Linked DNA regions of Homo sapiens: all the other regions are reported to be linked to region 1. The links are microRNA targets in miRTarBase. Many come from high-throughput screens and were not tested one by one. Region 1 holds a microRNA gene; each other region holds the end of a gene's coding sequence.

What was found. The annotated mature microRNA hsa-miR-4457 reads UCACAAGGUAUUGACUGGCGUA and lies in region 1 at 1,313-1,334, shown strand. An mRNA with a match to its seed (bases 2 to 7 or 8) in the 3' UTR can be bound and repressed. Matches are read on the target gene's strand: a 7mer-m8 pairs with bases 2 to 8, a 7mer-A1 pairs with bases 2 to 7 and ends in A, and an 8mer does both.
Region 2: the mRNA of TOGARAM2 is a reported target of hsa-miR-4457. The part of its 3' UTR that is shown has no 7-base or 8-base seed match.
Region 3: the mRNA of TMEM81 is a reported target of hsa-miR-4457. The part of its 3' UTR that is shown has no 7-base or 8-base seed match.
Region 4: miRTarBase lists GINM1 as a target of hsa-miR-4457. The part of its 3' UTR that is shown has no 7-base or 8-base seed match.
Region 5: miRTarBase lists DAZAP1 as a target of hsa-miR-4457. Seed matches in the 3' UTR shown: 7mer-A1 at 3,706-3,712.

The regions. Positions count from the first base shown.
Region 1 is chr5:1,306,497-1,310,647 of GRCh38, reverse strand. It overlaps MIR4457 (microRNA 4457), which reads left to right and starts at 1,271; the gene lies at 1,271-1,338.
Region 2 is chr2:29,051,677-29,055,827 of GRCh38, forward strand. It overlaps TOGARAM2 (TOG array regulator of axonemal microtubules 2), which reads left to right. Exons shown (of 20, transcript NM_199280.4): 20 at 80-554. The coding sequence ends at 417. Among named protein-coding and RNA genes, the nearest start is that of PCARE, 21 kb to the right of the region's middle. RefSeq lists an enhancer at 1,279-1,789.
Region 3 is chr1:205,080,011-205,084,161 of GRCh38, reverse strand. It overlaps TMEM81 (transmembrane protein 81), which reads left to right. Exons shown (of 1, transcript NM_203376.2): 1 at 1-1,033. The coding sequence ends at 609. Among named protein-coding and RNA genes, the nearest start is that of TMEM81, 2.4 kb to the left of the region's middle.
Region 4 is chr6:149,590,240-149,594,390 of GRCh38, reverse strand. It overlaps GINM1 (glycosylated integral membrane protein 1), which reads right to left. Exons shown (of 8, transcript NM_138785.5): 8 at 2,643-3,664. The coding sequence ends at 3,553. It also overlaps the pseudogene RPS18P9. Among named protein-coding and RNA genes, the nearest start is that of GINM1, 26 kb to the right of the region's middle.
Region 5 is chr19:1,434,671-1,438,670 of GRCh38, reverse strand. DAZAP1 (DAZ associated protein 1) reads right to left here. Exons shown (of 12, transcript NM_018959.4): 12 at 2,987-3,934. The coding sequence ends at 3,759. It overlaps RPS15 (ribosomal protein S15), which reads right to left and starts at 275. Exons shown (of 4, transcript NM_001018.5): 1 at 243-275. The coding sequence starts at 245. RefSeq lists enhancers at 32-251, 1-530, 3,907-4,000.

The DNA of each region.
Region 1 (4,151 bases):
TATTTCATTTCATACCTTTAGAGCTGGTTAATGAGCTCATTAATCTTTAGCCTTGTTCTAGGAACTTTCACTTCTGGACAAAATGAAGCAACAGGAACGGGATTCGTCCTCCCATTTGACATGACAACACAACCAACAATAGACTAGACAAAATGTATGAAATCACAGCCCTAAAGATCCTGAAGCTCAGCCAAGGAAAGAAGGTGAACCTCAAAAGGCAGGAGCCAAATGCGGCAAGCCTACAATCGCTTACCTGGGAAGACTGTCCGGGCAATGGTGCCCACCTGAGGCTGGACCTGGTCGTCTCCCTGGGGCGAGGAGATGGAGCTGGAGACCAGGGAGGCCAAGGTGGCTGAGGTCTGAGAAAGCACTGGAGGAGTGAACTGTGTGGAAACTGGGCTTCAGGATATGTGGCTGATGGCTGGTCGGCATGTGTGTCAGAAAAAGGACTGGATTACAGGAAAAGGTCCAAATAAGAACAACCCAATAGGATTGGAAGGAATGGTGTTCCCACAGCAATAGTGCCGGTTCTAATTAGCCAGAGCAGAAAAGCTTCTAATTCACCAGGTTTTTTTGTTGTTATTTGTTTTGTTTTGTTTTTGTTTTTGTTCGTTTGTTTTTGAGACAAGGTCTTACTCTATTGCTAAGGCTGGAGTGCAGTGGCGCGATCTTGACTCACTGCAATGTCTTCCTCCCGGGTTCAAGCAATTCTCCTGCCTCAACCTCCTGAGTAGCTGGGAGTACAGGTGCATGCTACCATGCCTGGCTAATTTTTGTATTTTTAGTAGAGACAGGGTTTCACCATGTTGACCAGGCTGGTCTCAAACTCTTGGCCTCAAGTGATCCACCCATCTCAGCCTCCCAAAGTGCTGGGATTACAGGCATGAGCCACCGCCCCCAGCCCTAATTCACCAGGTATTGACTGGAGTACTCAGTAGAGCCTGGCCTCAGAGACAGGGTCTCACTGTCACCAAGGCTGGAGTACAGGGGTGCGACCTTGGCTTACCGCAGCTATGACCTTCCCAGGCACAGGTGATCCTCTCACCTCAGCCTCCCAAGTAGCTGGGACCACAGGCACATGCCACCCCATGTGGCTAATTTTTATATTTTTTGTAGAGACAGAGTTGCACCATGTTGCCCAGGCTGGTCTCAAACTCCTGGGCTCAAGTGATCCTGATCCACCTACCTCAGCCTCCCAAAGTGATGGGACTACAGGCGTGAGCCACCACGCCCAGCCCAAACGTCAATTATCTTGGCATGATGACTCTTTGGAGTACTCCAGTCAATACCGTGTGAGTTAGAAAAGCTCAATTCACAAGGTATTGACTGGCGTATTCAGAAGAGTCTGGCCTCAGTAGCGGAGAAAAAACCTTCCTCGTGGATCAACCCCTGCCCTGGTCCCACTTACTGGAGCCCAAGCACAGGATTCAGAAGGATCGAGTTTTTCCAAGGAATGTAACTGTTTCCCAGGAAAAAACTAAACAATATTTTTAGGAACACAAAAATATACATCACCAAACAAGATGAAACGCACACTGCGTGCATCCATATTACCAGGCATGCGAGGAAGCAAGGAAACAATTCCTGCAATGGGAAGAAAACCACCCAGAGCTTACCGGGGAGCGACAGACATGACAGAATTAGTAGAAAAGGACATTAAACCCGTTGATCACCTTTATTCCGCGTGTTCAAGTCGCTAGAGGAAAGATTAAGATGTTAAGGCAGAGACATGGAAGATAGCAAAAGATCCTTGTCAAACATCTACAGACAAAAAGTGTAATGTCTGAGAAGAAAAATACATTGGATTAGATCAATGGAAGATGAGGCATTGCCGAAGAAAAGATTAATGGATTTGAACACACAGCAACAGAAACTACATGAAGTGAAACACAGGAAAAAAAAGATAAAGAAACGAAAAGAAAAGGGCATCAGTGAGCTTCAGCAGAAGTTCCATCGGCCTTACATATGTGTAAGCAGAGGCCCTGTAGGAGCAGAGGCAGGGGGAAAATACTTTAAGAAATAATGTCTAAAAGTTTTTCAAATATGAGGAAAAACATAAAACCACAGATCCAAGAAGCTCAACAAAACAAAGCACAAGAAACAGGAAGAAATTAAAAGTTATATCACAGTCAAATTGCTGAAAACCAGCAACAAAGAGAATATCTTAAGAGTATCAGAGGAAAAGAGATTAATGACAGGCCAAGAAACAACGAAAACAATACAGATTTCTTGTAGGAAACACAAGACAAAAGACATTTTTTAAAACCAAAAGGAAAAAAAATGCTACATTAAAATGTTTTTTACCCACTGAAAGTATATTTCAAAACATATTTTAGGCCAGGCTTGGTGGCTCACACCTGTAATCCCAGCACTTTGGGAGGCCAAGGTGGGTGGATCGCTTAAGGTCAGGAGTTCGAGACCAGCCTGGCCAATATAGCGAAACCCCATCTGTACTAAAAACACAAAAATTAGCTGGGTGTGGTGACACATGCCTGTAATCCCAGGTACTCAGGAGGCTAAGGCAGGAGAATTGCTTGAACTGGGAGGCAGAGGTGGTGAGCCAAGATTGCACCAGTGCACTCCAGCCTTGGTGACAGAGTGAAACTCCATCTCAAAAACAAACAAACAAAATACATATACATAAATATATATGCACATATATATACATATATAAATATATATACACATATATAAATCTATATACATATATACATATATACACATATATAAATCTATATACATATATATACATATATAATATATTTACATATATAAATATATACATATATAAATATACATATATAAATACATATATAAATATACATATATAAATATATACATATATAAATATACATATATAAATACATATATAAATATACATATATAAATATATACATATATAAATATACATATATAAATATATACATATATAAATATACATATATACATATATAAATATACATATACATATATAAATATATATACACATATATAAATATACATATATAAATATACATATATAAATATATACATATATAAATATACATATATAAATATATATACATATATAAATATATAAATATACAAGTATATACAAATATATACATATATAAACATATATACGTATATACATGTATATACGTATATACGTATATACATGTATATACGTACGTATATACATGTATATACGTATATACGTATATACATGTATATACGTATATACGTATATACATGTATATACGTATATACGTATATATATAAATGTATATACGTATATACGTATATATATAAATGTATATACGTATATACATATATATATAAATATATAAAAAAACTTTTGGCTGGGCACCTTTCCAAATCTCATGGCACATATAAGTCTCATGGTAACCTCAAATAAAAAAACATATAACAGATACACCAAAAATAAAAACCAATAAATTAAATCATGCCACCAGAAGAAATTACCTTCACTAAAAGGAACACAGGAAGGAAAGAAAGAAGGAAGAGAAGACCATGAAACAACCAGAAAACAAACAACAAAACAGCAGGAGTAATTCCTGACTTATCAATAATAATGCTGGGTGTAAATGGACTAAACTCTCCAATCAAAAGACATAGAGTGGCTGAATGGACGAAAAAAACAAGACTCAATAATCTGTTGCCTACAAGAATATACTTCACCTATAAAGGGACACATAGACTGAAAATAAAAGGAAGGAAAAATATTCTATGCAAATGGAAACCAAAAAAAGAACAGAACTAGCTACACTTATATCAGACAAAATAGATTTCAAGACAAAAAGTACAAAAAGAGACAAAGTAATTATATAATAATAAAGCAAAAAGATATAACAATTGTGAATTTATATGCGCCCAACACTGGGACACCCAGATATATACAGCAAATATTATTAGAACTAAGGAGAGAGAGAGATCCCCATACAATAATAGCTGGAGACTTCACCCCGCTTTTAGCATTGGACAGATCATCCAGACAGAAAATCAACCAAAAAATTGGACTTAATCTATAATATAGAACAAATGTACCTAATTGATGTTTACAAGACATTTCATCCAGTAGTTGCAGAATATGCATTTTTTCCTCAGCATATGGATCATTCTCAAGGATAGACCATATATTAGGCCACAGA
Region 2 (4,151 bases), not on the chromosome of region 1:
AAAGTTGGTGTCCCAAGAGAGGGAAGTGGGAGAGGGAGAGAGTGCCTGGCTCAAGTGACTCTCCTTTTCTGCCTGACAGTGCTGGTGGCCTCAGTTTACCCCCGGAAGCCTCAAGCTGTAGAGCGGCATGTCCTTCCCATCCTCTGGCACTTCCTGAACACCGCCACCAGGAATGGCACCCTGCCTGGACCCAGCGGGAACATCCGCGGGGTGGTGTGCCGGCTGTCCAGGAGCCTCCAGGAGCACATGGGCTCCCGCCTGCTGGACTTTGCCGCCAGCCAGCCAAAGCACGTCCTCAAGACGCTCCAGGAACTCTTAGACTCAGAGTCCTTGGGAGGCAGCCGCAAGGCCACTGACAGAGGGGTGGCCCCTGACAGCAAGACAACTGGCAGCTCATACCCTTTTCAGCTGGATTAAAGATGGATCTGAAATGGGCAATTATTATTTATCTTATTTTTTTGATGGACTATTCTCCTGGTTACTTTCCCCCTTAGAGTTCCAGATGTACATGGTATATTTTGAAGTAGAAATAAAAGAATTACTTATTTTTCTAAGGTTTTATTATCTTGTACTTTTTTAATCACAGAGAATTTTCCAGTAACTAGGTTTGTGATGAACGAAATGAAATGTGACAGCAGCAAAACCAGTTGCAGACAATGTTGAGACAAAGAGTTAGGAAGAAAAAGGGTAGCACAGCCCTGCAAGCTGCAGCCCGCTCGAGACGATAGTTGCCCATCTGTGAGCTGCTGGGCAAGCCCTCCTGAAACCCGCAGCCTGAGTTGGTCATCGAATCCAGTCCATTTGTTATGGGCCTGATTGGAGGTGAGTGTAACAAACGTGTTCAGGGACATCGTGCTTCTGCCCTGCAAAAGCTGCAGCACGTGTCTGTTGGTCCTGTGGGAACCTTCTGATCGGCCCAGCTTATCAAAAGACAAGGGGAATTTGAGATTTGCATCACTAAAAGCCTTCTCTAGAAGTTGGAGTTCTGGCTAGTTCTGAAGAGGACTAGACAATGCTTTGCCATTGAAACACCCTAAATGGAGATGCATGTGGAGCGTAAAGTGCTACCAGTGTGCAGATGCTGCCGAGTCTCTGAAACTGCACAGGCTGCAATTGTGGGCCACATCACAAGGCTGGAGGGGCGAGTGGGCACAGCACGGGCCAGGACTTGTGGAAGCAGGGAAGGTGTTGGCCCCTGGGGGAACAGCCAGTGAAATGAAGTCCCGGCAGTGGAGAGGGAAGTCTGGGGCTCAGGCTCTGGACACTTTAGGTAGGAGTGGCTCTGCCTTGGCTGGGGCCAGTGGCAGGTTAACAACTGTGTGACCAGAAAGAGTTAGAGCTAAGGCCATGACCTCAAATGCACAGGCAAGGCAGGCCTGGTAAGGCAAAGGCTGAAGAGGCAGCATCCCAGCTCTTGCAGGGGAGCCCAGCCTGCAGCCACGTGCTGGGGCAGATCCAGACGACCGAGGCCCTGAGGGCCCAGCCTCATGCCAGCAAGTTTTCTGGCAGACACCCCCCTCCCCTGCCCTTCCCCAGTGGAACCTCTTTCCACTGTCATCTGCCCCCCAGGCCTAACATCCATTCCACATCCCTGTTCTGAGCCTCTCCTGGGGAGTCTGGCTCTGGAAAGCCCCGAATCTACTCACTTATGTATTTCCATACCCCACCAGGCTGAGGAAGCCACTTTCCCATCTTGCCTCTGTGGCAGGTGTAGTTAGTCCGGCCCCTCCTTACGCCCTGGGGTGAGGTTGGGCCTGCGAGTCATCCCGGGCCTTGGGCTTGTCATAGGCGGCTTAAGAGTGACTTTGGGTAATTCTAGCCCAGTGAGCTGCTTCTCACCTGATTGTGACCCCAGCAGGGGCTTCCCTGCGACCATCTAGCTCTTTGTTGATTCTGATTGAACCAGGTTAAAGGCCTGCTAGACAGGCAGCCATCCAAAAATGCCCAAGAGGCTGACAGTAAATGTTTTAAGTGTTGAACAATTTAATGAATTGCATTTGCCTGTCATCTGAGCAAATGTTTTTGGTTTGGTGAGGAGACTTGCATTTTCTGCTTTTATCCTAGAATGTATCAGAACATTTCAGGGTTTTTTAGATCCCTAGGAGGCCAGGGACGTAGAGTCTGGCAAGGATTTTGACGGCAGAAATGAAGCTTAGCAGTACTGTCCTGTCTTCCTGCCTTCCATGTGTGTTCTCACACAGGAAGCTTCCCATCCCATGGGCCTCCACCCACTCTCAGGGGCGGAGGCATTGAAAACAGCTGAAAACAGTGGAAAAGTGCAGAATACATCTTTGCACTGTTCTCTTTTCCCTCATTATTTCAGGTTTTATTAACCACACCTGTGGTGTGACGCTGCTGGGAGGCACTGGGTGGCTCTGGTGTACCTTGAGAAATTTCCATCTCCAAAGACTTCCTTACCTCATTACTTTTAAAATGAAGGGAAGACAGCATGTTGGTAACCTGGCCCTGGGCCTGTTGGGAATACCTGTGGGAATCTAATGGGACGGCCTGTCATGGGACATGAAGATTTTCCTAAGAGCTGGGGCTGGAGCTAAGCCCACACATACTTTGCTTGGTTCTGTGTGTGGCCAGGAACTCCACTTACATGAGATGCTCTTGGGGGTGGGAATACAGCCTCTAATGATGGAAGATTCTCTTTCTCTCAATCTCTCTCTCCATGTAACAAAAATGCAGGTGCAGTCACTCACTGCTTGCAGACTCCAGTGAACAAAAGGGAGGCCTGGTATAAAGAAACTGACTTTTTATTCCAAAGCTAGTTTAGGGGAAGAAGCTGCCTTGAAGGGTACTGTGTCGTTTTTGGAGCAGAAAGTGGGCACTTTTAAAGGGGCGGGGGGGGGGGTGCTGGCACGAATGGCATGCAGGAGAGGAAGCGGGCAGGTGGGGGAGTCCACATACTTGCTTTGATGACTTATGTAACGGGTGGTCAAGTTGGCATCTTCGTGGGCAGAACTAGGTTGTAAAGTGGCTGAAGCTCTCCGGGTGGGAGGGAGTTTCATAGTGGGCATATTTTGGGTTATTAATTGACTGTTGTGTCTCCAGGCAGTTTCCTGGTGGGTGCAAGTTCTGCTCTAGAGCTTCTAAGCACACAGTTAGATGAGCCTGCCCTGGAGGGAGTGTCTGGTAAAGGGGAGGTAAAAGGTTATAGTTGCATTTCTTTTATATATATGTTTATTTGTTTATTTATTTATTATACTTTAAGTTCTAGGGTACATGTGCACAACGTGCAGGTTTGTTACATATGTATACATGTGCCATGTTGGTGTGCTGCACCCTTAACTCGTCATTTACATTAGGTATATCTCCTAATGCTATCCCTCCCCCCTCCCCCACCCCACAACAGGCCCCGGTGTGTGATGTTCCCCTTCCTGCGTCCAAGTGTTCTCATTGCTCAATTCCCACCTATGAGTGAGAACATGCGGTGTTTGGTTTTTTGTCCTTGCGATAGTTTGCTGAGAATGATGGTTTCCCGCTTCATCCATGTCCCTACAAAGGACATGAACTCATCATTTTGTATGGCTGCATAATATTCCATGGTGTATATGTGCCACATTTTCTTAATCCAGTCTATCATTGTTGGACATTTGGGTTGGTTCCAAGTCTTTGCTATTGTGAGTAGTGCCGTATAGTTGCATTTCTAAAGGGCTAAGTAGGAAGTGGGGAACAAGGGGAAATGGGGAAAAGAGAAGAGAAATAATTTTAAAAACTCGTTTTCTTAGAAAAATGAGTGTACTCAGTTCAGAGTGAGACTCATAGACAGAAGACTTGTCTGAGAGCTGTAACTGCCAGGATTCCCTTTTACATCAAGGAGAATTTTTTTGAGATTTTAGGAAACTTTTCCTATAGGTCCCATTGTGGCAGGCCAGGTATCACTAATGCAGGCATCCATAACAACTGTTTCAATACTGACTGAGTGGTTAAGTTAAACATTAAAAGCTGAGAGAGCTGGTGGCCTTATACAAAGGCTGGAATGTAACAAAAGCCCACCAAGAGTTTGCCTAGGCCTTTGCTGGGCCTTGAAGCATGATGAGATAATGAAGGAATTCTTAGTGGGACCTGTTTAGGATTAAACAAGCTTTACTGGGTGTCTGAAGAAACTCCCCAGGCCTCCAAAAACAAGTTTATTGGAGGTC
Region 3 (4,151 bases), not on the chromosome of region 1:
GGCCTTGGCTATAAGGAGGAGACCGTCTGTGAGGTGGGCCCTGATGGAGTGAGAAGGAAATGTCAGACTCGGCGCTTAGAATGTCTGACCAACTGGATCTGTGGGATGCTCCATTTCACCATTCTCATTGGCAAGGAATTTGAGCTTAGCTGTCTGAGTTCAGACATCTTGGAGTTTGGACAGGAAGCTTTCCGGTTCACCTGGAGACTTGCTCGAGGTGTCATCTCCACTGACGATGAGGTCTTCAAACCCTTTCAAGCCAACTCCCACTTTGTGAAGTTTAAATATGCTCAGGAGTATGACTCTGGGACATATCGCTGTGATGTGCAGCTGGTAAAAAACTTGAGACTCGTCAAGAGGCTCTATTTTGGGTTGAGGGTCCTTCCTCCTAACTTGGTGAATCTGAATTTCCATCAGTCACTTACTGAGGATCAGAAGTTAATAGATGAGGGATTGGAAGTTAATCTGGACAGCTACTCCAAGCCTCACCACCCAAAGTGGAAAAAGAAGGTGGCGTCAGCCTTGGGAATAGGAATTGCCATTGGAGTGGTTGGTGGCGTGTTGGTGAGGATTGTCCTCTGTGCGCTAAGGGGGGGCCTGCAGCAGTGACAGCTTCAAGAACTTAACAGCCTTGCTCCTGAAGAACTGGCTGCCCAGGAAGCCAAGCTAGCTTTTTAGGGGAGTGTTCCAGCTGCTGGTAGTGGATCAGCTTAGAGGGAACACTCCCACAGCCAAAAGAATGAGTGGGAGAAATGGAGGGGACAATCTCCTGGGAGCTATGCGCAGTAACCTAACTTCCTTATGTCCCATGGATCTCTTCCTGATCTTCCCTGCCCATTGGGTACCCAGGAAACTGCAAGCATTGCCTGTGTTCCTGGGAAGAGTTCTAAGAAGCTTGCATTCATTTTCTACCCTTTATGACTTGGATGCCTCCCCACCTCCATTTCCCCTCTTCTGAGCTGTGTATTCATGTAGAGGGATGTATTCAGCCTTTTTAGTGAACATTTTTTTTCAATAAAAGTAATTCACAGTAGCTGTATGGAGACCTTTTTCTGCTCTTCAGTTTCTTGTATTTATTTAAATTGTCCCATAATCAGTCTGGCTTCATTTTCCTCAGGTTTCTTAGAATAGACATTAAACCAATTGTCTGCTTTTGGGGGCAGGGGGTGCAGTGCATAAGCCTATGGCAGGGGTTGTTAGTAATGACATCCAACTCAGGTGTGTAACAGTCACTAAATATTAACAAATTGCCTGTTCTGCCCAGGTAAATCCCCTGTTTGGTATTAAATTGAATTTCTTGGCAAAACACTAGATCCTTCACCTGGTAGGTTTCCTCTTACCATTCAGACAGCACCTTGGCTTGCCTCCACTCCAGTCCTTTTAGCTCTTTCAGTGCCCTGAAGCTTCTATTCCTGGGAGGGTCAAGTATTGGTTTCTTACAGCAGCCAAGGCCCCCAAAGGAGGATTAGTACTTTGATTCCTCCATAGGAAATCCAGTCTTAAGACTCCGAGGCCATTCGGACCGTGTCTGAGATAATTGGCTTGTGGAACCATCAGGGAAAGACTCTTGGCCACCAGCTGAGCTAATTCTACTGAGAGAATTACAACATTTCTTCCTCTCACTTTTCTCTGACTACAGGAGGTAGCAGAAACCAAAGACCAGCGATTCTCTAGATGTGTGTTAGAATCATCTGGATGACCTTGTGAAAAATAAAGGTTCTTGAGCTCTAATCCTGACAATGCTAATTCAGTTTAAATTATGGTCAAAGGATCTCTATTATTTATTTTACTTTTAACTTGTAAAAATTTCAAACCCATAGAAAAGCTGAAAGAAATGTTTGGTGACCATGCATAGAACCTTTACCAAAATTCACCAGGAATTAACATTTTGTCACAATTATCTTTCTCAATATAGATTGATTTTGTTAAACCATTTGAAAGCTAGTCACAGACATTGCAACTCTTAACTCTTAAACCATGTATGCATCTCCTAATAAGGATGTTCTCTGTAACCACAATATCTTTATCACACTAAGAAAATTAACAATTTCTGGCCAGGCGCGGTGGCTCACGCCTGTAATCCCAGCACTTTGGGAGGACGAGGCGGGCAGATCACGAAGTCAGGAGATCGAGACCATCCCGGCTAACACGGTGAAACCCCGTCTCTACTGAAAGTACCAAAAATCAGCCTGGTGTGGTAGCGGGCGCCTGTAGTCCCAGCTACTCGGGAGGCTGAGGCAGGAGAATAGTGTGAACCCAGGAGGCGGAGCTTGCAGTGAGCTGAGATTGCGCCACTGCACTCCAGCCTGGGCGACAGTGCAAGACTCTGTCTCAAAAACAACAACAAAAAATTAACAATTTCTTTCTTTTCTTTTTTTTTTTTGAGACGGAGTTTTGTTCTTGTAGCCCAGGCTGGAGTGCAATGGTGTGATCTCAGCTCACTGTAACCTCTGCCTCCTAGGTTCAAGTGATTTTCCTGCCTCAGCCTCCTGAGTAGCTGGGATTACAGGTGCCTGCCACCATGCCTGGCTAATTTTTTTGTATTTTTAGTAGAGACGGGGTTTCGCCATGTTGGCCAGCCTGGTCAAACTCCTGACCTCAGATGATCCACCTGCCTCGGCCTCCCAAAGTGCTGGGATTACAGGTGTGAACCACTGGACCTGGCCAAAATTTAACAATTTCTTAATCTTATATAGTTTATACAAGTTGAGCATCCCAAGTATGAAAACCTGAAATCTGTAATGCTCCAAAACTTGAAACTTTTTGAGTACCAACATGGTGCTCAAAGGAAATGCTTATTGGAAGAGCTTAGATTTCGGATTTCTTGGATTTGGGATGCTTAACCTATAAGTATAATGCAAAGATGCCAAAATCTGAAAAAGTCTGAAATCTGGAACATGTCTGGTCCCAAACATTTTGGATAAGGGATACTCAGCCTGTATTCACTTCTCAATATCCAAAATCTTAACAGCTTTTTAATTTCATTTTTGATCCAGGATCAAATAGAAGTTCATGTGTTATGTTTCTCTTAAGTATCTTCTTTTACAACAGACCTCCTGCATTCCTTTGTCTTTCATGACATTGATTTCGTTGAATAATTTACTCCAGTTGTCTTAGATAAGATTCCATAATTTGTATTTGCCATTTCCTCATGAGTAGATTCATGAGGAATGAATCTTAAACATTTTTGACAAGAGCCCTATGTAGATATGTACTTAACTGCACCACATTACAAGGCTCATGTTTTTGTTTATGTTTTTGTTTTTTGAGATGGAGTCTTACTGTATCATCCAGACTAGAGTGCAGTGGTGCAATCTCGGCTCACTGTAACCTCTGCCTCCCGGGTTCAAGTGATTCTGATGCCTCAGCCTCCTGAGTAGCTGGGACTATAGGCATGTGCCACCACGCCTATAGATGGGGTTTCACCATGTTGGCCAGGCTGGTCTCAAACTCTTGACCTCAGGTGATCCGCCCACCTCGGCCTGTCAAAATGTTGGGATTACAAGCGTGAGCCACCGCGCCCAGCCAAGGTTGACCCACTATTGATAATAAGCTTGATCATTTGGTTAAGGTGGTGGATGGCCAGATCTCACCACCAATGTGTGTGTGTGTGTGTGTGTGTGTGTGTGTGTGTGTATTTTCCCCTTTGTAATTCATAGTCTGTGGGGTAATACTTTATGATTATATGGCTCTCCAAAAACTCTTCACATATTTTGGCATCCATTGTTTTTGCCTTGTTGAACATTACATGTTGGGGACTGCAAACTGGCAATTCTTTATGTTCATCTTACCTATATTAGCCTGCATTTCTCTGTAAAGAAGAGCTTACTCTTTTTACCCTCTTTATTTTTGAGGTCTCAATAGATTCTTCTTATTCAGTGAGCTATATATAATCCATTATCATTTTATCTTTTTTTTAACTTTTTAGGTTTAGGGGTACATGTGCAGGATTGTTGCATAGGTAAATTGCATGTCATGGGGGTTTGGTGTACAAATGATCATTATCTTGATGTTCAAATTGTCCCCAATTTTGGCCAGTAGGAGTCCCCTCAGGCAAGCTCTTTTGCCCTTTTGCTGTGGTTTTATTTGACATTGAGCATTTTCTTGCTTCTAGTACAACACGGTATCTCAGATTCACATTTGGACTCTCC
Region 4 (4,151 bases), not on the chromosome of region 1:
ACCATTGGCTAGGACCTGGCTATATTTTCCATCCTTTACATCCTTCTGTCTGTTCAAGAACCAGGCTGGCATCTTGTACTAGTGTGGATTCTGCATAATGGTGATCACATGTTCCACCTCATCCTCAGTGAGTTCTCCCGCCCTCTTGGTGAGGTCAGTGTCTGCTTTCCTCAACACCACATGAGCATATCTTCGGCCCACACCCTTAACGGCAGTGATGGCAAAGGCCATTTTCCGCCACCCATCAATGTTGGTGTTGACTACTCGGCAAAATATGCTGGGACTTTTCAGGGATCACTAGAGACATGGCGGCAGCACAAGTGGCGGCATGTAGGCCTCCTGTGGAAGAGAGCTATATGCACTTCTAACTTGGCATCTTCTCTCCTACTGTTTGCTGCTGTTACTCCTTCTAGGAAGAAAAAAATATTGGCTCTAGCTCCAGTTAACCTTACCCATTGCCTCTGGGTGCCAGCGGATAACTGAAAATCCCTGAACATTTTTACACAGTAGCTAATTAAAGCATGAGCCAAGCCCAGTATGTCTTCCTTCCCACCTGGTGTTATGGTAGCTTCCCTTCACCTCCTGGGAGAGTTTTAAAGACACATTTTACTTTGCATTTTAAAAAAATAAAATAAAATTCTTACTTGACTTTTATTTTGCCTATGTAAGAGGCTGCACTATAGGCAAATAGGCATTTCTAAACCTGTGCTGCTCATAGTACTCTAATCACTCATTAACTCATGCATACCAAACATAGCTAAAGTAAAGTATTAATGGTATGAGTTAATAAGTGAAATAAAAGTTAATGGTATAAAATTTTAGATAAGATTTCCATGTGTGACTACTTAGAAGAAAATAACTTACCATGTTATCCCAACCATAGAAAACAGAGCCTCAGGAGATTGCGGACCTTGCTGTGGTCCCAAGTCTTACTGAGAAAGACAGAAGCCTGGGTAGGGATCTTCTGACTGCAGAGCCTACACTCTCCAATAGACCATGTAGCCTCCTAAAGTTTTTTCTTCACTAGAATCTGTAAGCTTATGGTTAATAGATAAAATAAGACCATGTCATCATTTGGAGTTAGAACTGGTGCTTTCTAATGACTTAGGGAATGAGAAAGGGTGTAAAGAACAAGTGTTACTGGTTGGTAACTCAAGGATCAAATTGTAAGTTGCAGATTATTTTTTTCAGCAGTATGGAGAGAGTATTGCATAATAGAGCTCCATGCAATGTAATTAATTTAAAGTCTGGCAAAGTGAAACATCACTCCTTCATTCTACTTGTCATCCTCTCCACCCCCATCACACACATACCTATTTGGCCTAAATATAAAGTGGTCTCAAAAAAACCAACCATGGCCGGGCATGGTGGCTCACGCCTGTAATTCCAGCATTTTGGGAGGTCTAGGTGGGTGGATTACCTGAGGTCAGGAGTTTGAGACCAGCCTGCCCAACACAGTGAAACCCCATCTCTACTAAAAATACAAAAATTAGCCGGGCATGGTGGTGGGAGTCTGTAATCCCAGCTACTCAGGAGGCTGAGGCAGAATTGCTTGAACTTGGGAGGTGGAGGTTGCAGTGAGCTAAGATCACACCATTGTACTCCAGCCTAGGCAACACGAGTGAAACTCCATCTCAAAAAAACAAACAAACAAAAAACAACCATTACTTTCTTGGATAGTGTTTTCAAAATGATGGGTTGCAGTATATATATATATATATATTTTTTTTTTTTTTTTTGAGACAGAGCCTTGCTCTGTCGCCCAGGCTGGAGTGCAGTGGTGTGATCTCGGCTCACTGCAAGCTCTGTCTCCCGGGTTCACACCAATTCTCCTGCCTCAGCCTCCCGAGTAGCTGGGCCTACAGGTGCCCCCCACCACGCCCGGCTAATTTTTTGTATTTTTTTTTTTTTTAGTAGAGACGAGGTTTCACCGTGTTGGCCAGGATGGTCTCGATCTCCTGACCTCGTGATCTGCCCACCTCGGCCTCCCAAAGTGCTGGGATTACAGGCATGAGCCACTGTGCCCGGCCAGTAAAAATATTTTTTAATGAAACAACAGAAAGTATCACATAGAGGGCCAGGCGCGGTGGCTCATGCCTGTAATCCCAGCACTTTGGGAGGCCAAGGCAGGCAGATCACAAGGTCAGGAGATCGAGACCATCCTGGCTAACATGGTGAAACCCCATCTCTACTAAAAATACAAAAAATTAGCCGGGCATAGTAGCGGGCGCCTGTAGTCCCAGCTACTCGGGAGGCTGAGGCAGGAGAATGGCATGAACTCGGGAGACGGAGCTTGCAGTGAGCCGAGATTGCGCCACTGCACTCCAGCCTAGGCGACAGAGCCAGACTCCATCTCAAAAAAGTATCACATAGAGATGAGTTATATGTACTCGTTCACATTGTAAAATATTAATATGTCAATATGAGTGATGGTTAAAAAAGGTAATAAAACACTTTTAGGGTAAACAGCACTATATCTAGAACCACAAGACCAAGGGCACAGTCTAATTCATGACATCAATGGACTCATTCAATTTGAGCCATGGTTTCAGCCAGTGTAAATGAAAGTATACCTACTCCTGCATCTCAGCCATTCTTACCTGGGCAAAGGTTTTATATCAGTGTAACCAAAACAGCTATACTTTTTTCCTCAAAAAAAAAAAAAAAAAGTTTATTTTAGAGTGAGAACATGTCATACTACTTTTAAATCTTGGAGCATTCAAGGTAAGTAGTCTTGGTACAGGATACAATCAAATCATGATACACTTCAGTGATTTTATACTGAGTCACATACTTAATATAAAGGCACACTGTACTGAATAAAAAAATAAGTGTTAAGTTCTTGACCTTTTAAATTAGAATTTTATAAAGTGCTTTTCATAAAGTCTTATATATTATAGTAATTAAGTGGATATAATTTCCTTAACAAAGGCACCTTGAAAAGTTATTGGCACATGAGATTTTGTCTGGTCTTTTTTTTTTCTTTTGATAATTTCAAAGTCTCTTCACATGTGTTCTCTTCCACTTTAAGTTTTCCTTAACAATTCATCATATGAATAGCCAGCCCTTTTAGAGAATAAGGTCAACTTTTTTTTTTTTGAAACAGAGTCTCGCTCTGTCACCCAGGCTGGAGTGCAGTGGCGTGATCTTGGCTCACTGCAGCCTCCGCCTCCCGGGTTCAAGCAATTCTCCTGCCTCAGCCTCCCAAGTAGCTGGGACTACAGGCGTGCACCGCCACACCCAGCTAATTTTTTTATTTTTTTTAGTAGAGACAGGGTTTCACCATGTTGGCAGGATGGTCTTGATCTGACCTCGTGATCCGCCCGCATTGGCCTCCCAAAGTCCTGGGATTACAGGCATGAGCCACTGCACCCGGCCGAGAATAAGGTAAACTTTAACTTGGCACTGTAAAGGTCAATTTTCAGGCAGTCTTAGAGTTTAGCAATTTCTCTAGTGTATAAACTGATTCTTAACGATTTAAAGAAAATTATATTCAAGTGGCAAATTTGGAGGCAACAGGCTACTTCGGAGTCCATGATATGAGATGGCGTTTTAAATACATGTTTTATCTTCAAGGTTTTCAGCTCTTTTCTCTGGACCATCTGGATATAAGTTGATAGCTGTCACAGGTATGACGTCCACTTTATCCAACTGAAGAATTCCTCTGAAATAGAAAGTGATTAATTACTATCAAAATTAAATGTTTCCTCTGCCTGTAGTTTGATAGTGAGAAAAGGCTACTTCAAGGTTATAATATACACCTAAGGTTAGGTGCTTTTGCTACATTCTATTTAAAAATTCATAGTGGTTGTACAAACTGAGCCCAAAGTCACTTTAACCAAACTGGCTGAGAGAATAGAAAGGCATCGAGGAAGTTCATTATTTCCTATTTTAGGGAAGAATAGGGTAAGTATAGATCTCCAAGGCAGAGTTAGGTTCCTAGATACACCCAGGCTGAGCAAAAAGCCTAAGCCTAAGCCTCTCTCTAAATAATACTCACCACCACAACACAACCTTAGGTCTTTAGATAGTGTTGCTCTTTTTGTTACTTAAAATCCCTGACCAGAGAGTACGTCTTTGGATTGAATCTAGGACCCTGCATTGTAAATTCAGTGTTATTCTAATAAGAACATCAACGGGGGTTAGTTGTT
Region 5 (4,000 bases), not on the chromosome of region 1:
CCCGGGGATCACTCGCGGCTCCGGGTTACGAGGACCCGGACATGAAGGCCCGGACAGGCCTTCCCAGCCCCGCGTCGTCCCGACACCCACCAAGTCCGCCCCTCGCCCCAACATCCAGCCGCCTGCAGGGTCGGGAGCAAGCCGCCGTAGCCGCGGGGACGAACTGCGGCCCCCGCGAGACGGTCAGAGGTTGGATGGAGCCGGATAGGCCCGGCAGAGACGCGCCAAATCGCAACACTCACCATCTTGCCGGATCCTCAGAAGAGATCGCTTTGGTCCGCGCCTGCGCAGTTATCGCGAGACTGCCGGCATGTCCCGCCCCCTCGGCCGTGCGCGCACACGCGCTTCCGCTTTCCCGGCGGCGAACACGCGCCCTCTGCCGTCTGGAGGGCAAAACACAGGCTGCAGGGATTAGAGCAGCCGCCGCCTGAGGTCTGCAGAGCCGCTTCCTCCACGGAGTGGGACTTTGGACAAGTCGCCGCCCCTGTCTGAGCCTCGGGTTCGTGCTCCGTCATCTACACGATGGCACCCACATCAACAAGTATTTATGGAGCGCCTACCGTTTGCTCGTAGGTGCGGTTTGGCGGTTCAGGTCCCACTGTGGGAGGAACACGAGAATTCATTACAGATACTGGAGCAGGGACAGGGCCTCGCTGAAAAGAACCATTCCGGCTTTAACAGATAAAATTTTGTATATAAAGTTAGTAAGGACAACACAGTGAGACTGCCTCTCTACAAAAAAATACAAAAATTTGTGTACACACGGACATAAAAGAATAAAAAGTACAAAAAATTCCCAGCTACTCGGGAGGCTGAGCCTTCAGCCCAGGAGGTCAAGGCTGCAGTGAGCCGTGATCGCGCCAACGGCACTCCAGCCTGGGCGACAGAGCAAGACCCTGCCTCAAAAATAAAGTTAGGAATATCACTGGGTTTGTTAAGATATGTAAATGTAATGTGAATAATGATAGCTCAAAGAGAAGGAGTAACTAGAACTATGTAGGAGTGACTTTTTTTTTTTTTTGAGACAGAGTTTCACTCTTGTTGCCCTGGCTGGAGTGCAGTGGTGTGATCTCGGCTCACTGCAACCTCTGCCTCCTGGGTTCAAGCGATTCTCCTGCCTCAGCCTCCCAAGTAGCTGGGATTACAGGCACCTGTTACCGTGCCCGGCTAATTTTGTATTTTTAGTAAAGACACGGTTTCTCCATGTTGGCCAGGCCATGTTGGTCTCGAACTCCTGACCTCAGGTGATCCACCCGCTTTGGCCTCCCAAAGTGCTGGGATTACAGGCGTGAGCCACCGCGCCTGGCCTAGGAGTGATGTTTCTGTATCTTACTGGAATTAAGTATAAAGTTGAAGGTGACTATTAACTATGGATGTGGCACCTGGCTGGGCGTGGTGGCTTATGCTTGTAATTCCAGCACTTTGGGAGGCCGAGGCGGGCGGATCACCTGAGGTCAAGAGTTCAAGACCAAGCTGACCAACCCTAACTCTACTAAAAATACAAAAAATTAGCCAGGCGTGGTGGTGGGTGCCTGTAATCCCAGCTCCTTGGGAGGCTGAGGCAGGAGAACCGCTTGAACCCGGGAGGCGGAGGTTGCAGTGAGCTGAGATCGCACCACTGCACTCCAGCCTGGGCGACAGAGACTCCTTCTCAAAAAAAAAAAAAAAAAAAAAAAAGAAAAAGAAAAAAAAAAAGCACAAAACCTCTGGGAACCCGAGCTTAGCTGTGGCACTGTCCAGGGAGCTGAGCTCTCCCCAGCCGTCCCCACAGTCCCAAGGGAAGCCAATTACACTGTACTCAGGGAGGGCTGAGTCTCCGTCCCGAGGAGCACAGGACCTATGTGTCGGGCCCGTCCATGTTACCCATTTTCCTGCAGCAGAGTGTCCTGGCTGGAAAGCTGATTTTGTGAGTGCTGCTCTTTGGCTGGGGGAGCTAATGTAACGGGAGGGGCTGACACTCAACACCATGATGACCTGTGGTGTGGATAGACAGCCGCCCCCGCCTGGCCCTCCTGGGAGCTGGGGCAGCAGCTCCTGAGGACATGGGAGAAGGCTCTGACGGCAGGGAATGGAGCTGGCTTCCTGGGCTGAGGCGTTGAGGGGTACTGTCTCAGTGAGGAAACTGCACTGCACAGGGATGTTGGGGGTACCCCTTCTCTTGGTTCTCTCCAAACTAAGTCAAACCTTCCCTGTCCCCAAAATATGAACTGGGGCGGGGGGGGGTGGTTCTGGCTGTCGCCTGAACAGTCTCACGCCTGGCACGCTGTAGGCTTCCAGTTTGGGACTTCATGGTCCTTTTTTTTTCTTGTTTTGTTTTTTGAGACGGAGTTTCGCTCTTGTTGCCCAGGCTGGAGTGCAATGGCGCAATCTCGGCTCACTGCAAGCTCCGCCTCCCAGGTTCAAGCGATTCTTCTGCCTCAGCCTCCCAAGTAGCTGGGATTACAGGCATGCACCACCACACCCGGTTAATTTTTGTATTTTTAGTAGAGACGGGGTTTCTCCATGTTGGTCAGGCTGGTCTCGAACTCCCGACCTCAGGTGATCCGCCCGCCTCGGCCTCCCAAAGTGCTGGGATTACAGTCGTGAGCCACCGCGCCCGGCCCTTTTTAAGTCTCGCCTTCCCTGCCACAGTGACAGAGTATCCCTTTCCAAAGATGCCCCTGTCCTAATCCCCAGAACCTGGGGATATGTCACCTTCCATGGCAAAAGATATGATTAAAGGTCTTGAGATGGGAAAAGCCTGGAGCCCACATTCCCCGAGAAAACTGGTGGTGGCCACATCCTCAAAGTCACAGCATCCCAAGACCCACTGAGGGATGGGCCCAGCTCGCCACTCAGCCTCTGCCCTGAAGCCCTCGGGGTTGCTGAGACCACCAAGAGCCAAGGGGAGGGCGAGGGCGCCTCCGTCGCGTTTCAGACCTTTCCTAGGCACTGGAAGGGTAGGCACAGGCCAAGACCAAGGAGGGAAAAAACGGACACAAAGTGGTTTCTAATCCAAACGCACTTCTCTTTATTCAAACCAGGGTCAAACTGGTCAATGGGAAACGCCCTGAAGCCACGTGCCTGGGGAGAAAGGCTTCCTACTCGGTTCGGTTCAGCGCTGCGTGGGATCCACGCGGCTGGCTGTGCGCAACCCCCACAGTTCACCTCAGACACTACCAAGCAGGTCAGTCGACAAAAGCAAGGAATTAAACAAAAAACAGAAATACACTCAGTAGATTTCTTCTAGAAGCTCCCAGAGTTTCTGGACCACCAAGTCCCAACCCCCAAAGCCAGGAGCGAGGGGACTAACAGCGCACCCCCTCCACCAGTGCCGACGGAAACCCCGTTTTAAATTAAAAAATAAGCCAGTATACATCGTAGAAAATTTCTCTTAAAAATCTCACAATTTGTAAATGTATATTTTTTCTTTAACATAAAAGTTTACAATATACCGTAAAACAAAAGGCTCAGGAAAATAATTTCCAAAAAAAAGGAAGAAAAAGAAACCTGAAGTTTTGAATTAAAGCTGAAGACATTTTTTTTAAACCCTGTTGTTGAACCAGTGACTTTTTTTTATTGTGCTGATGGGTTAGAGAAAGAAATATTTAAAAACCTCAGTCCAGACGACACCCACAGCCGCTCCAAAAGCCTCGCGCCCTCCCCCCGCCCCCCCCCCCAAGGTTGAGTCGCCACTTTGCCGCCAAGTTTGTGATTGTCACGAGTTCACAAGTTTGGAATCCTGGGTCTGGGCCGTGCAGACGTCGCGGCGCCGCGGGCTAGCGTCGGTAGGGGTGGAACCCTTGCACGTTGTGGTTCTGCCCTCGTCCAAAGCCGCTGCCGCCGGCGGGGGGGCCCCCCGACCCTGGCACGGAGGGACCCCCGTAGGAAGGAGGCTGCTGGCTGGGGTCTGAGAAGCCCTGTCCGAAGCCACTCAAGTCCTGCCCGTAACCTGCTGGGGGAGAAAGTCCTGTGAGCTCGGGGCGGTCCCTGGGCGGTTGGCACTGCCGTCGAGCGAGGC